Homo sapiens: one gene and its partner. The protein of the gene in region 2 purifies or fractionates together with the protein of the main gene of each other region. This does not show direct contact. Each region holds a gene or a part of one and is shown on either strand. Other genes may lie near its edges.

The links. Proteins that work in one complex are often made in the same cells at the same time.
Region 1: the proteins of TES (region 2) and LIMA1 purify together in Homo sapiens (affinity purification with mass spectrometry; 2 studies listed by BioGRID and IntAct, with this or other methods). This does not show direct contact.

What each region holds. Positions count from the first base shown.
Region 1 is NC_000012.12:50,216,591-50,224,528, reverse strand, and holds part of LIMA1 (LIM domain and actin-binding protein 1), read left to right. Parts: intron 1-1,870; exon of another isoform or gene 1,871-1,894; coding exon of another isoform or gene 1,895-2,006; exon of another isoform or gene 2,007-2,043; coding exon 2,044-2,508; intron 2,509-7,938. UniProt on the Homo sapiens protein: Actin-binding protein involved in actin cytoskeleton regulation and dynamics. Increases the number and size of actin stress fibers and inhibits membrane ruffling. Inhibits actin filament depolymerization.
Region 2 is NC_000007.14:116,247,756-116,256,564, reverse strand, and holds part of TES (testin), read right to left. Parts: intron 7,546-8,809; coding exon 7,293-7,545; intron 6,405-7,292; coding exon 6,069-6,404; intron 4,806-6,068; coding exon 4,590-4,805; intron 4,248-4,589; coding exon 4,089-4,247; intron 1,448-4,088; exon of another isoform or gene 1-1,447. UniProt on the Homo sapiens protein: Scaffold protein that may play a role in cell adhesion, cell spreading and in the reorganization of the actin cytoskeleton. Plays a role in the regulation of cell proliferation. May act as a tumor suppressor. Inhibits tumor cell growth.

The DNA.
Region 1 (7,938 bases), on a different chromosome or scaffold from region 2:
ATCCATTGTGTGGCACGAGACCTTACAGAGCCAAGAGTGCTGCTGGCAGTTAGGGTAGAACCAGCTTCTGGAGCTGTTCTGTAATTCCTTCTTTTCCAGCAAGAAAACTTTTTAAGCTTCTTATATCTCTGATGCATACATTCTTCCCCCAATGGATCATTTTGTAAGCTAAAATTTAAACACTAGAATCAAGCAGTTCTATAATTTCTTTTCAAGCCTTATTTCTACTTGATGAAGTGGCTTTCAAGAGTATATTCAGAAGAGTAATAGGGTGAGAGACTTAATTCCCAAAATAGCTGCTAATCCTGTTTAATTCCTAGGTTGTTTGTCCTTTCTTTCTTAGTTGAAAGACTGGTGAGTCACAGACTACAGGAGAGAAGGTATTGGAGTTTGCAGTTTGTTGGGAAGGTGGTGCTGTTCAATTTATTTAGGAGTACAGTCCTTTCAAAGTACGGGACATTTAATTTAATTTAATTTTTCTTTTTTTTTTTGAGACAGAGTCTCACTCTGTCACCCGGACTGGAGTGCAGTGGCGCGATTTGGGCTCACTGCAACCTCCGCCTCCCAGGTTCAAGCCATTTTTCTGCCTCAGCCTCCTGAGTAGCTGGGACTACAGGCGCGTGCCACCACGCCCAGCTATTTTTTGTATTTTTAGTAGAGACGTGGTTTCACGGTGTTGGCCGGGCTGGCCACGAACTCCTGACCTCAGGTGATCCACCCGCCTCGGCCTCCCAAAGTGCTGGGATTACAGGCATGAGCCACTGCGCCCAGCCGGGACATTTAATTTTCAACAAGCGTGTTTCCTCTATTATGGAACAACAGTGACAATTTCCAGGTTGTTTTCAGTCTGTCTTACATGTATAAATTAATTCCATTTTTGGCCCTAGTGAAAGTGAACTCTCTTAGATATGTAAATGTGTGTCCTTTGATCATCTGAGTGATAAGTAGTGGTATTTGCATTTGAAGCCTGCATATTTTACAACCAGAGGATCTGTAAAACAGTGAATTTCTTGATAACTGAGAATTTTTTTTTTTTTTTTGGTTGGGGGATGGCGTCTCACTTTGTCACCCAGGCTGGAGTGTAGTGGCGCAGTCTTGGCTCACTGCAACCTCCACTTCCCAGGTTCAAGCGATTCTCCTGCCTCAGCCTCCAGAGTAGCTGGGACTATGGGTGTGCACCACTGCACCCAGTTAATTTTTGTATTTTTTTTAGAGACAGGGTTTCTCCATGTTGGTCTGGCTGGTCTCAAACTCCTGACCTTGTGATCCGCCGGCCTCGGCCTCCCAAAGTGCTGGGATTACAGGCGTGAGCCACCGTGCCTGGCCCTGATAAGTGAGAATTTATACACAGATAAACTTGTAGAGAAGAGCAGGGAAAAAAAAAAGATTAAATTCTTATGAAAAATAAAATTTGACTGCTCATATGCATGTAAATTATGTCAGATATAACTAAATATTTATGCAAATACTTGGAAAGTCTGGGGACTTCTCCAGGGTTCTACAAATTGTTTCAATCCTTGCTGCCACTATCCGTAATTAATGGTATAGTTTCAGCTATCCTGCAACTATCCTGCATCTTTGTCTTATTTAAAAGAAGAAAAAAAAACCCAGCAGAATTTACCATGTTATTTTATGGCAGGTAATGATGAACTTTGCTGATGTGTAGTTACAGTGTTTCAAGCACTTGTATTTTGCTTTTTCTTTCTTGTTTTTTTCCCCATTAATCTTTGGGTAAAAATCTCTTGTTTCGCATGTAACTATCATTAGAGCTGGGTTTGCCTTTCTTCTCATTTTGTCCTTATAAGGCCATCCTGTTTTATCACTTCCTGCTTCAGCTCCTGAGTTTTTCTCTCTTCCCCTCTCCCTCTCCCTCTGCCGGGTGGATGCTTTCTCCATGTGGCAAGGCTGTAACTGTTCACAGCTGTCTGAAACAGCAGTGGACCAGGAGCAGCTTGGAGTTTTAACTTTCATTTTACAAAGAACAACATGTTTGAATGTTTCAGCAGGCAAGTTATAACTGGCATCTACTTCTTGTTCTTCTAGAACACCGAAAATCTCTCCCAGCACTTTAGAAAGGGGACCCTGACTGTGTTAAAGAAGAAGTGGGAGAACCCAGGGCTGGGAGCAGAGTCTCACACAGACTCTCTACGGAACAGCAGCACTGAGATTAGGCACAGAGCAGACCATCCTCCTGCTGAAGTGACAAGCCACGCTGCTTCTGGAGCCAAAGCTGACCAAGAAGAACAAATCCACCCCAGATCTAGACTCAGGTCACCTCCTGAAGCCCTCGTTCAGGGTCGATATCCCCACATCAAGGACGGTGAGGATCTTAAAGACCACTCAACAGAAAGTAAAAAAATGGAAAATTGTCTAGGAGAATCCAGGCATGAAGTAGAAAAATCAGAAATCAGTGAAAACACAGATGCTTCGGGCAAAATAGAGAAATATAATGTTCCGCTGAACAGGCTTAAGATGATGTTTGAGAAAGGTGAACCAACTCAAACTAAGGTAAGAATTGGGCGGGTTTGAAACTTGAGAAAGCCAATTCAAGCACTAAACAAAGCTGTTTTTCCAATCTAGCTATTTTGAGTAGAGGCGAATATGTGGTCAGTATGTCTTTTGATTCCAGTTAGATAAGTTAATAGTCTCAAATGCATTATTTACATAGATGCTAAGATTTGTGAGTCTCTGACACAATTTCATGTTAAATCAGGTTCACACTGGGATTCAAATTGGTATCTAGAAATGAAGAGAGTTTAATACCGATTGGATTATGTGTTTTTGTACACTTGCCCTTTTAAATTGTCTTCCTGTGTTCTTTATCATTTGTAGCTTTGGGGGTGGAATTACTGCTGAATAGCTCTCTGCTTGGACACAGCTGCAGACTGAGTGTTAAGGCCGGAGTTTAACATTAAGACTGAGGCTTACTTGTCTCTGCTAGCTGAATCCCTTCTCTTCTTCTCAACTTCCTCATCTGTGCCTTCCAACAAATGTTTTCTATCAGCTAAAATCCTCTCTCAGGCAAAATCAATGAAGATAGCCAGACTAGCTATAGCTTTCGGGAGTTTTGACTTGCAAATGCACAGGGTTGCGTTTTCCTACAACTGCTAATGAAATTTGATCCTTCATGTGGATTGCAGACCTCGTCCCCAGAGGGAATTACTTAACTAGAAAATGAGTTACATATGCTGGTGATTTATAACACAATCCAGAGGCCACAGAGCTGGTAAATTTTTCCAGTTTTCTCATACTTTCCTATATATCTGGCTTTGTACATGGGGATGGTTCGTTACAACAGTCGTTATAATGAAATAAACAGACCTGATGGGGAGCAAAACCATCTGTTACTCTAGATTCCACCTAGATGGGAAAGCTGGATTTTTTTTAAGCTAAATATTTGGCCCAAGTCCCTATGTTTGGAAAGTAATATAATAATATTAAGCATTCTTTCTGAGATAAAAAATAACTCATCCTGTAGTCTTCAGTTATATTAGATGTGATATTGTCAATCCCTTCCCATGACTTGCAGTGCCAGTCACTTTTCTACTTAGAATTAGAAAAGTTCTTGAATGTTTGCGGGTCATGTTTGAAGTTGTGCGAGTTTTTGACGATGTGTAAAGCTACAACACTTCTCTGTGCATGAGCTTTAGCTCTACTTTAACAGTGAAACCAGTTGGCAAGAGATGTAACCACAAAGCAGTTTTATAACGTTTCTTAACTCTCTTCCCTCTCAAGTTTTTAGACCTTTAGTCCTGCCAACTCCTTCTTTCCCCTTTATGGTTTTAATTTAAAAATTTGTTTTATTTAAATGGGAAGAAGAATTTTAAGTGGAAGGAAAAAATGTCAGAAATCCTAAATAGAGAGGAAGGGGTTTTGTTGTGACTCAAAGCACCATTGTAAGTCTCCTCCTCCCAGACCCTGCTAGGAACAGGACAGCTGATGTCATGCCAGTACACACAATGTAGATTCAGTGCAAAAGGCTGCTGCATGTTGAAACTGGCCAAAGGTAGGAAATGACTGGGACTGTAGCAGACAAAAATGCTGATTATGTGTAAGGATATGGTGAGACACTTTTTCTCATAAATATCTAGTGAGATATGGGTCAGAACAAGCCTATCTCCCTAAGGCTGCTTGGAGAGGAGAAAAACTTTCCATATAAGATCTTACTAGTCCGGGCGTGGTGGCTCAAGCCTGTAATCCCAGCATTTTGGGAGGCAGAGGTTGGGGGATCACTTGTGGCCAGGAGTTCGAGACCAGCCTGGCCAACATGGTGAAACCCCGTCTCCACTAAAAATACAAAAATTAGCCAGGCATGGTGGCGTTGCTGGTAGTCACAGCTACTTGGGAGGCTGAGGCAGGAGAATCACTTGAACCTGGGAGGTGGAGGATGCAGTGAGCCGAGATCATGCCACTGCACTCCAGCCTGGGCAACAGAGTGAGACTCTGTCTCAAAAAATATATAAAAATAAAAATAAAGATCCTACTAGATGGCTGATAGCACTGGGCCACCAGATTGATTGCTAAAGGTATAGGAAGATGGAAGAGGCTGGGCACGGTGGCTTACATCTGTAATGAGAATTTAGGGAGGCCCAAGGCAGGAGGATTGCTTGTGCCCAGGAGTTTGAGACCAGCCTGGGCAACATAGCCAGACCTCGTCTCTACTAAAAATTTAAAAATTAGCCAGGTGTGGTAGTATGCATTGATAGTCCCAGCTACTTAGGAGGCTGAGGCAGAAGATTGCTTGAGCATGAGAGTTTGAGGTTGCAGTGAGCCATGATCGCCACTGCACTCCAGCCTGGGCAACACAGTAAGATCCCTGTCCCTTAAAAACAAGAAGATGGAAGAGACATAAGATTCACCTGGGCTTCTAGGTTTCATTGCTTTTTGTGTGTGCCATTTTTAATTTCCTGATTTGTCACTTAATGGACTGCTTAGGGAGTGGAAAACACAGCCACCCTTGGTTTTATTGCTGTTTGTAAATAAGCATCATTGTCCATACTGAAAACAGTCTAGATTATATTTATTTATTTATTTATTTATTTTTGAGACAGAATCTCTCACTGTTACTCAGGCTGGAGTGTATTGGTGCGATCTCGGCTCACTGCAACCTCCATCTCCCAGGTTCAAGTAATTCTCCTGCCTCAGCCTCCCAAATAGCTGGGATTATAGGCGCCCGCCACCACGCCCAGCTAATTTTTGTATGTTTAGTAGAGACGGAGTTTCATCATATTGGTCAGGCTGGTCTTGAACTCCTGACCTCAGGTGATCTGCCTGCCTCAAGCCTCCCAAAGAGCTGGGATTACAGGCATGAGCCACCACGCCCAGTCTCAGTCTAGATTATTTTTAACAGTTCTGTCAGGTATTCTATAGTCTGAGCTCAACCTACCTGTATAGTCTCACAGCCAATCTTATACTCAAACCTTGGAATACTCATCCCCCAACTGCTACTTTTTGAATCTTTTATTCTTAATATTTCACGTTTTAACTTCAGTGTGTTTATACTTTTTGAAATGAGACCAGAACATAGTAGACTTTATAGAGAAGACCAGTTTTACCTAGATTCCAAAGGAAGAATTAAACTGCTGTTATTGTTTGAAATGCGTTTTTTTTTTGTTTTTGTTTTTTTTTTTTTTATGGAGATAGGGTCTTAACTCTGTTGCCCAGGCTGGAGGAGTACAGTGGTACAGTTATGGCTCACTGCAGCCTTGACCCCTCTGCCTCAGCCTCCCAAATAGCTGGGGCCACAGGTGTGTACCACCACTCTCAGCTAATTTTTAAAATTTTTTATGGAGACAGCGTTTCGCTATGTTGCCCAGACTGTTCTTAAACTCCTGGGCTCAAGTGATCCTCCTGCCTTGGCCTCCCAAGCTGGTGAAATTACAGGCATGAGCCACCACACCCAGCCTGAAATTCTTAAAGGATGAGAATGTCAATGACAGAGCACCTTGGCATCATTGTGACTAACCTGGGAGACAGGGAAGAAGCACGCCATGGGAAGTGTTTACATTTGGGTACAGCTGTGCTAAGTACTGTGGAGCCCATAGCCTTGAGGTAGACGGCTACTTTGCCTTTTTTCTTGAACTGTCTTGCAGAATGTGGATTTGGGGTAAGTGGTCTTGAAGCACTCATTTAGTCACCCTCAAATTAAGATTTTTACTTCATCTTTCTTGGGCCTGTACCTCCAAGATGACAAAGAAAAGAAGAAACAATGGTCACACCAAAGAGGGCCGCAACCAGGTGTACGCTATTCACTGCAGCCAATTTGCTGCATAAACTGTGCCCATTGTGTGCCCAATGACAAGGCTTATTAAGAAATTCATCATAGGCCGGGCGCGGTGGCTCACGCCTGTAATCCCAGCACTTTGGGAGGCTGAGGCGGGCGGATCACGAAGTCAGGAGATTGAGACCATCCTGGCTAACACGGTGAAACCCTGTCTCTACTAAAAACACAAAAAAATTAGTTGGGCGTGGTGGCGGGCGCCTGTAGTCCCAGCTACTCGGGAGGCTGAGGCAGGAGAATGGCGTGAACCCGGGAGGCAGAGCTTGCAGTGAGCCGAGATCACGCCACTGCACTCCAGCCTGGGCAAGAGTGAGACTCCGTCTCAAAAAAAAAAAAAAAAAAAGAAAAGAAATTCATCACTTGAAATGCTTGAAATGTAGAGGCTGCGGCAGTCAGCGATATTTCTGAAGTGAGCGTCCTAGATGCCTGTGTACTTCCCAGGCTGGATGTGAAGCTACATTACTGTGTGAGTTGTGCCATTCACAGCACGGTAGTCAGGAATCAAGGTCATGAAGCCCACAAGGATCGAACACCTTCCCCCCACTGTAGACCTGCGGGTGCTGCCCCACGACCGCCAGAAATCAAGGTCATGAAGCCCGCAAGGACCGAACACCTCCACCCCACTGTAGACCTGCGGTGCTGCCCCATGACTGCCACCGAAGCCCATATAAGGAGCAGAGTTCTTAAGGACTGAAGAAAAACTAGCCTCTGGAGAAAAATAAAAAAATTGCAATTGTACTTAAAAAAAAAAAAAAGATTTTACTTCAAAGGCCAGGCTTGAAGTTCTGAACACTTTGAAGTCTCCAATTATGAGGGATCCAGTCTAAGCCTCTGGCTTTTGCTATTTAGCAATAGGTGTTCTATGATGGGCTGATTTGGAAGGAGGGAGTCAGCCACTCTTGAGCCACTGCAGTGAAGTCACTTGATCTCAGTCTGGAGAGAAACACTTTAATAGCTAAACATTCTAGCTTTGATTTTTCTGAAGGGAATACACCTGTTTTCAATTCTGGGATTTTTGGGGTGCTTGCTTGACTGTATATGAACTTGTGATCCAAGGAAAAAATAGGAGAAAGAACAATGTTGGCTTTTTAAGTCAGGATAGTTTTATGTTTGCTACTAGATAAGGCAAAAATAAAAACTTATTTTTATAAATTCAAGAAGAAAAGTAAGGATGTTTTTATACCCTAGTGGTCAATAACTTAGTTCATAGTATTTATTTAATAAAAGGAAGGTGGCATTGGTGGTATAGTGGTAAGCATAGCTGCCTTCCAAATAATGAAAATTGATTAAAGCCTATTTCTCAGTTATTCTCTACATTTGATGAATAGATAGGTTATTTAGGTCAGGTGGTTTAGCTGAATATGATGGTTTTATTTATTTATTTTTGAAACAGAGTCTCATTCTATTGCCCAGGATGGGGTGCAGTGGCACAATCTTGGCTCACTGCAACCTCTGTCTCCTAGGTTCAAGCAATTCTCCTGCCTTAGCCCCCGAGTAGCTGGGATTACAGGTGTCCGCTGCCATTCCCGGCTAACTTTTTTTGTATTTTTAGTAGAGATGGGGTTTCACTATGTTGGATAGGCTGGTCTTGAACTCCTGACCTCAGGTGATCTGCCCACCTCAGCCTCCCAAAGTGCTACCGCGCCCAGCCTGAATGT
Region 2 (8,809 bases):
TGCACATGAGGAAAATGAATAAATAACCTATGTTATAGCAGAAAACAGAAAACCAGTTCGGACCTCTGAAACACTGGATAGTCCATGCCTTATAGTTTATACATGTTCTGAATGAATATGGCTGTCTTAAAGTTTTTGTTTTAAATATTTCATAACAAGTGAAGAAGCCAGCAAGACTGTCTGGTATCACAGTGACTAATCTTAAGCACCCTTGGTCTCGTAATGTGATTGTCAGGAATTACTGAGGGATAAGGGGTGGGAACAGGTGAGTGGAGGTCATTCAGCTTGAGCCTCCTTACTTGAAAAGACTTCAAAATGTGGCTGCTACTCACTGGGTAATTGGTTTAGGCAGTGAAGTGAGGCCTGGTTATATATGTCCATTTCAGACCTGCATATTTTTGTTACATTGCTTCTGATTACAGAGATTATAGCTCTGTAATCTATAAGTTAGGTCAACCCAGTCTTCCCTGAGATACAATGAAAATTCTTTGATCAACACACTATTCCTGAATACTATAAAAATGAACGTTTCAATTACAAGCACATTTCTAATGTGCAGCTGCACCATGCAAGCAACTGCTTTTTGTATATATTTTTATAGCTTTATTATGCATTTAGAATGTCTTATTTTCTGCATTTCATATTAATCTTTCCATTTTAAAATTTATGATCAACACATAATTGTACATATTTATGGGTGTACTATGTGATGTTTCAATACATGTATACATAGTGTAGTGATCAAATCAGGGTAATTAGGATATCCCTCTCCTTAAACATTTATGATTTCCTTGTGATAAGAACAGTCTTTCAATATTTCTTGTTTATGTATTTTGAATGTGTTCTTGTAAAATACACCGTGTGTTTTATTCCCTTGCTTTCAGACCATGATCTATCTTCTTTTTCTCAGACCTGTGATTTTTTAAAATTACCCAAAACACACATTTTCAGTTGCAATTTACAAAAAAGAGATAACTAATGTTCAATTACACATGAAATTAAGAAAATTAAGCAAAAAGATAATTAGTACACATAAATGGTATAGAGAATTAAAGTCTGGGGTTTCATAAAATTTCATTTTACTAATAATTTGATTACCATTCATTCAAAATCTGACATGTAATCACAGGTCGAATCTACTGTTCCCTAATTCCTCAAAAATCTAAAATTGGCCCAGGCTGCGCCAAGGGCCTGGGGACTGCAGAACCCTTCAGGGAGATGATGTGCTTCACCACTTCCTGCCTGCCATTTGATCTTCCCATGTTCCTAAACCTTTAATATTTCAAAGAATTCTTATTTCCTTCAATCCCTCTTCTTATTTGTACACAGGATGTAAAAGAGCTAATGACACCTGTTGTAATGAGCTCTCTGCAGGAGTGTCCTATGAATCTGACGGATGTGAATTCTGGGGGTAACTATGGAGTTCTAGTGACTACACAGAGACAAAGTAGGTGCATCTGCCATGTTTTTTCCTTCCAGGTACTTTTTTTTTTTTTTCTCAGAAATGTTGTTTGGAGTTGAGCACTTGATTTCAGGTCTAAAAATAATTTGTATTTTCTCTCTTTAAGATGAAAAGATCTAAGCAGATCAATGCCCTGAACTAGATAACCTTCTCCAAATTTTATATAATGTAGCATGCTGTGTGGGTAGCTCTCTTTGCTGTTAGCTGGAATCTGTTCTGGCAATGGATATGTATGCTCATTTTAATATTAGGCAAAGGCCAATGGTATATCCCACTGAGAAAGTAAACATAAAAGAAATGATGCTACACACACACACACACACACACACACACACACACACACATATATATATATTTTTTTTGAGACGGAGTGTCGCACTATCAATCACCTGGGCTTGGGGTGCAGTGGCAGGATCTCGGCTCATTGCAACCTCCACCTCCCAGGTTCAAGCAATTCTCCTGCCTCAGCCTCCCAAGTAGCTGGAATTACAGGCACCTGCCACCACGCCCAGCTAATTTTTTTGTATTTTTAATAGAGACGGGGTTTCACCATGTTGGCCAGGCTGGTCTCGAACTCCTGACCTCATGATTCGCCCACCTTGGCCTCCCAAAGTGCTGGGATTACAGGCGTGAGCCACCATGCCTGGCCAAAATGATGCTATGCTATAAAACTAAATAATTTGAAAATTCTTTTATTTAAACAAATCATATCTGTGGTTATACCCTGCCATTGATTAGAAACAATGTAATACAGAGAAGCTTGTAACAGCTAAAAAAAGAAAAAAAAGCAGTTTCATCTGTTTCAATAAATTTTTATTGAGCACCTATGTTGTCCTAGTGTTGGGAACAGAATAGAAAAGGCAGATAAAAAAATCCCTGCCCTGATGGAGTTACATTCTAGTCCTTGAGACTAAAGGTCAGACAGCAGCAAAAAAAAAGGTATACATTATAATACCTTTAGTCTGTAGAAAAACTGTTGCAACAATATTCATTGAAGCAGTTTTTAGCTAAATAATGTATCAGGTTACATGGTGATTTGACGTCTTGTTCCCTAGGTAAAGGAATGACCATGGTAACCCCAAAGCGAGAAATATTAAGAACACGAGTCAGTCACTCAAACATTTTCTAAGTGCTGACACTGAAGATATAGAAAGCAAGATATAAGGCAAGCTCTACCCTCCAGCTGCTTACAGTCTAGTGAAGGAGACAGATGAATGATATTCACACACACACACACCCCCACACACCCACCCACACACACACCATTGGGAACATGGAGAGTCTGGAGGAAATGGTGGAGTTTGGGCATAGTGAATCAGGAAAGGTGTTCCGAAAAAAAGTTAAACCTAAACTGAATCTAAAGGAATAAATGTGTAGGTACAGTCAGGTAAAACAGGGAAAAGTACGGTGTATTAGAAAAACTATTAGGAGTAAGCAAAAGACAACAGTGTGTAAACTAGAAAATGATGGTGAACGTGTGGAAATGTATGATTTGCGTTGGATAACTAGTAGAAGGGACAGGAGAGGCAAGAAGGGGCCAGATCTATCAAAAGTTTAATAATTTGCATTTTAGGAAGATAATTTTCCATCATTATGGTGGGTAGCTTTTGAGCAAGATGAATGAAAGTGGAGGAACGAAATTTGAGGCCACTGCAATAGTCAAAATAACAACAAAAAAAAAGGTCTAAAGTAGAATGGTTGTAATTATAAGAATGTGAAATATATTGGTGAGGCACAGTTGATAGAGAATGAATAACTGTATCTGGGGCAATGGGTGAACGCTGAAAATTGGCATTGACATAAAAACTTGTTACCTTATCTTCACAGTACCACACTCTTATAACTATATATAACTATATAAACCATATGTAATTTCATTCCTTAGCCAGGAGTCCCTTTTACTTGATAGCTCAGGGGACCATTAACACATATGTGTTTTGCTGCATATAAAGAAGTAAATGTCTATTTGGATACTCCTGGATTATACACTTTACCATCTATGGTCAACTTTTTACCCTTTATCTACATTACCATCACTTGGCCATTATACAACAGCAGCTCTGTGTAAGCAGAGTAAATGCAAGAAAAAATATACTTTCACATTGGAATGTTTGGCCCACACAAAAATCTAAATACGCAGGCCAAGTTTTGTTATGCTAAATCAATTCAATGAGGGTTTAAGAAATAGGTATCTTACAATCTCCAGGTAGCAAAAACAAAATTCCAGTGGGTGGTCCAATAACACAAACAGAAAGCATCATATTCAAATAGAGCTAAAGAATATCAATAGCCCCTAGACACCTTTATTGAAATGGAATCTGATTGCTAACCATGAAAATAAAACAATCTCATTCCCATTAAGAATTTTTTTAAGTGAGGATTTTATTATTAAGCAGTACCTATAATTGATATTGTAAATTTCACAAGTAGAAATCTTGAGGTGGCTCATAGTCAATGCATGTATTGTTTTTGAATTGCCTTGATTTTAACACCCTGTGGTAGGAATAATTTGCTTTCTACTTAGGAGGACTGCTTTCTGTTTCCCATTTGTAAGAGGCTTTAAGAAAAGCATAAACTCAAGTCCTAAAGCAGGCTGAGGCAACCATATCCTTAGAACACTTCTCACCACAGCGTGATTCTTCACATAGCAGGGCTTGCACACGGGCTTGTCATTGACCATCACGTATATCTCCCCAGCTAGAATGCTATCACAGTCAAAGCAGCAGAAGTGTTTCAGGTGCCAATTCTGGTTTTCTGCCTGGGTATACTCATTGCTGAATATCAGCTAGGAAGAAGATAAAAATAAAGATGGATTTTTATATAATAAGAGATTTATATCTGTAACAACATACTTTCTCAGGGTCTAAAGTTTGAAAATGATAACCTAAAGCTTGAACTTATGCTATCACTTAGTTTAGTCTAAATCAATCTTTTATATTTCTAGTCTTTCATTTGTCAACCCAATTAACACAGACAGAATGAATGATATCAGAAGTTTATTTTTTAAAACTTCTTTGGATGTAAACAGAGCAACTGCTGTTTGGTCAAGTCTTGTTGCCTTCTAGGTAAAGGGACCATATGAGGGTCTAAGAGGGCACCAGCATGCCGGTGGTCCCATAGAACATACCTCGTCACAGCCAGCACATCGGGGTTTCTCGCTGTCACAGTAATGTCTGCCACAGTATAGCTTCTCATTCTTCCAAAAATAAATCATGTCAACCAGGAGTTCATGGCAGGTGCTGCAGACAAAACAAGCTGGGTGCCACAGTTTATCATAGCCAGCCCTTTCGGCATAGATGGCTGGGTCACCTTCTTTCATACTCAGTTTGCAGCAATAGCAGGACTGAAAGGGAAGCCATCCAGAACAACCTAGTCATTAGAAGACTGCCATTTCTTTTCTTTCTTTCTTTTTTTTTTTTTGAGACTGAGTCTCACTCTGTCGCCCAGGCTGGAGTCCAGTGGTGCTATCTCGGCTCATTGCAAGCTCCGCCTCCTGGGTTCACGCCGTTCTCCTGCCTCAGCCTCCCGAGTAGCTGGGACTACAGGCGCCTGCCACCACGCCCGGCTAATTTTTTTGTATTTTTAGTAGAGACGGGGTTTCACCGTGTTAGCCAGGATGGTCTCAATCTCCTGACCTCGTGATTCACCCGCCTCAGCCTCCCAAAGTGCTGGGATTACAGGCGTGAGCCACTGTGCCCAGCTAAGACTGCCATTTCTTATCATTGACTTCAGTAGAAATTCAGAGAAACAACTTTGAAGAGACATAATTTCTACTGAAATTACAAATTTGTCGATGTAGATAATAACGTATTAATAATTCTGTGAAATGGAATCTCAGCTTTCTCCCGGCTATTCAAATCTACTTCATTCACCCTGTGTGTAACAGGCATTATTTCCTGAATTAAGGTCACTTATGGAAAAAGGAAAATAGTAATTTTCAGGTCAATTTTAAGTAGATTCTCTAAAACTATCACCTCAGGGCTTATTAGTGCTCTTTTTTCAGGACTAAGCCTTATTGGTTGGTGTGCTAACTGGAGCTATGAGGAATATATTACAGCAGGTTTAGTTCTTATGTCTGTTCATCTGTGTCATAATTGCCTCCTACCATCAAGTCATTAGCAAAATACTTCAATTTCTCCCTTTAGAAGAGACTTAAAAAAAAGCTTCACTATATATCCACAAAAATTAAATTTAAGTTTGAATTTTAGGCACGTTCTCACAAGCAAAACTGAATTAACCTAAGCATATATTCCTATTTATGGGCAGCAGAGATAAGCAATTAATACCAACATTATGATTAGAAACAGACTATAGAATAATAATGCTGTCTTTGATCAGCATGCCAATACCAACTACTGTCTGTACATAAAACTCACTATCCACAATTATCCTTGATAATAAATACATAGAAAATTTGGCTTTAGACAGAAGTTTCAAACACGATGACCCTCTGTGGGAAGTCTAAACTGAATCTAAATCCTATTTATTCCCCATACTTATTCCCTTTTGGAAACTCAGAGGAATAGTCCCCAAAAAAGTTCAAAGTAAGGGAAAAAAATTCTGTAAAGTATACAAATCAGGCTAACAGTGTGACCACTCTACTTACATATTGAGTTCTTTTGTGCTCAGCAGATTTGTCCTCCATGGCCCCCACTGCTGCTGGGGTGCTTCTATCCCCTCCAGGAATGTTCATTTGTTTGGGGCCTTGGGCATCCATCTCACAGGGAAGTTTGACATCTCCTACTCCCAGAGCTTCGCTCTTATATTTCTTCACAAACTGCTCCATCTCCTTCACCTCTCTGGGAGACAACTCATGGCACTTTGAAGGGTCCTGGTCATGTGCAGGGAGCTGCTTTGCCAGCTGCTTCTTCCGGTACTGTGCCCCCTCTGAGCCTGCTACTGGCTGCTTTTCCTTGGGTAGCATCTGCATGTACTGCCTGGCCTGAACCACAAGGAGGCCAATGTTAACTGGGATTGGCCATTAGGCAGTGTGATGTTTCATAACACACATCAGAAGCAAGTTACTTAAGAAAGAAGTGGGTTCTATCCAATAGCAGCAACTCACCCTCACAGTATATTAAGAAGTTAAAACTCAAAAACGGTACACTAAATAGATTTAGTTGGGTAAAAAGTAACACTTTCTCTCCATGAAATTATATATTTTTTCAGTTTGTAAGATCTGAGTTACTACTGTTTACTTAAGCTAAATAAACAAATGTACAATTGAAAGAAAACATAAACTTTTAGGCAGACATGTTTGGAATGGTCTGTAGGACCAGGAACATTTTTATTACATAAAAAATGATATCGCAAAATTCACTTTAATGATTTAACTAACCTTAAAAGACTTCCAAATGTTTCATTTGGTTGTTATAATAGTGGAAGGAGCTTGATATAAAACTGTGATCTTTTTGGTCTTATATAGTATTAATAAAGGAAATGAAAAAAACACAAAGATAATGTTGAATATTTTTTTCAGTTCTAAACTATGACAAAAATTCTCTTCTTTACCATCTTAAGATAAATCCTCTCAAGACTAAGCTAGAAGAGTTACTAGATTGATATAAAACATCTGATTTCCATCTAATTATTAAGAACGTTAGACCATTCCCTCAAAAAGGTAAACATATCTAGGGAGTTGGAAAAATTTTATGAAGTATCTAGTCTTACATTCAAAAGACTAGAACAGGAATCAGAAGTCAAAGTAATGAGAACCCCGGAAGAATAACAGATCTGGGATGTGTGAAGTTGATTAGGTCATCAAAGAAACTGCCCCAAATAAATACTCCAGGAACTTCAATAAAGAAACTCTCTGTTCCATATCATTTACCAATGCTTGATTCTGGACAGGAGGAGCCCACTCATAGGTAACTGTATTGATGGAGACATTCTTCTTGGCAGCAACTGGATTCGTCAATATCATAACATTGCGTTTATACATGGGAATTCCATCTGACTTTAGTTTTGCAATCAGAGTGGTATACTTGGTGTCTTCAAAAAGTTTTCCCACTTTTCGATCCTCTTCATTGCTCAAGAGGACATCATGCTCTTCTTGGCCACACTTGCAGTTACGACATATTTTTCTATAATTTTGAAAATAAGTAGAAAATGATTAATTGTACCTAATTGATATTTATGTTCATACATTTATAGTTCATAAAATACTTTTAGGCCTATTCTATATCATGGTATGCAAAGGCAAGTCCTTTTTTAGGAGGGAGAATAAGTATCCATATATTTAAGCAAGAAGGAAACAAAACACGACTTTGCTTGATAAGGCTTTTAAAAGCTAGGTTGTAAAAATTGAAAGAGGGACCCAATTAAACTGAAGAGCTTCTACAAAGCAAAAGAAACTGGCAACAGGACAAACAGACAACCTATAGAATGGAAGAAAATATTTGCAAATCCTGCAACTGACAAAGGTCTAATATTCAGAATCTATAAGGAACAATTCAACAAGCAAAAGACAACCCCATTAAAAAATGGGCAAAGGACATGAACAGATATTTCTCAAAAGAAGATATACATATGGCCAAAAAATATATGAAAACATGCTCAATATCACTAATCATTAAGGAATGCAAATCAAAACGATGATGAGATGCCATCTTCCATCAGTCGGAATAGCTATTACTAAAAAGTCAAAAAATAACAGATGTTGCGGAGAAAAGGGAATGCTTATACACTGTTGGTGAGAATGTAAATTAGTTCAGCCACTGTGGAAAGCAGTTTGGAGATTTCTCAAAGAACTTAGAACTATCATTCAACCCAGCAATCCCAAAGGAAAATGCATTGTTCCACCAAAAGGACAATGCACCCGTATGTTTATCACAGTAGTATTCACAATAGAAAAGACATGGTGGAATCAACCTAGACGCCCATCAATGGTAGACTGGATAAAGAAAATGTGGAACATATTCACCATAGAATACTATGCAGCCATAAAAAAAGAATGAAATCATGTCCTTTGAAGCAAAATGAATGCAGCTGGAAGTCATTATCTTAAGTGAATTAATACAGGAAAGGAAAACCAAATACCACATATTCTCACTTATAAGTGGGAGCTAAATATTGAGTACACATGGACACAAAGATGGAACTAACAGACACTAGGGAATATTAGAGTGGGGAGGGTGAGAGGGAGAAACGTTTGAAAAGCTAACTCTCAGGTACTATGGTCACTACCTGGGTGATGGGATCATTTATAACCCAAGCCTCAGTAACATGCAATTTACCCATGTAAAACACCTGCACTGCACAGGTACATTCTGAACCTAAAATGGAAGGTGAAAAAAAGAGGAAAGCAGCAGAATTATCAGTCACTAATAATGTATTTTTGGAAATTAC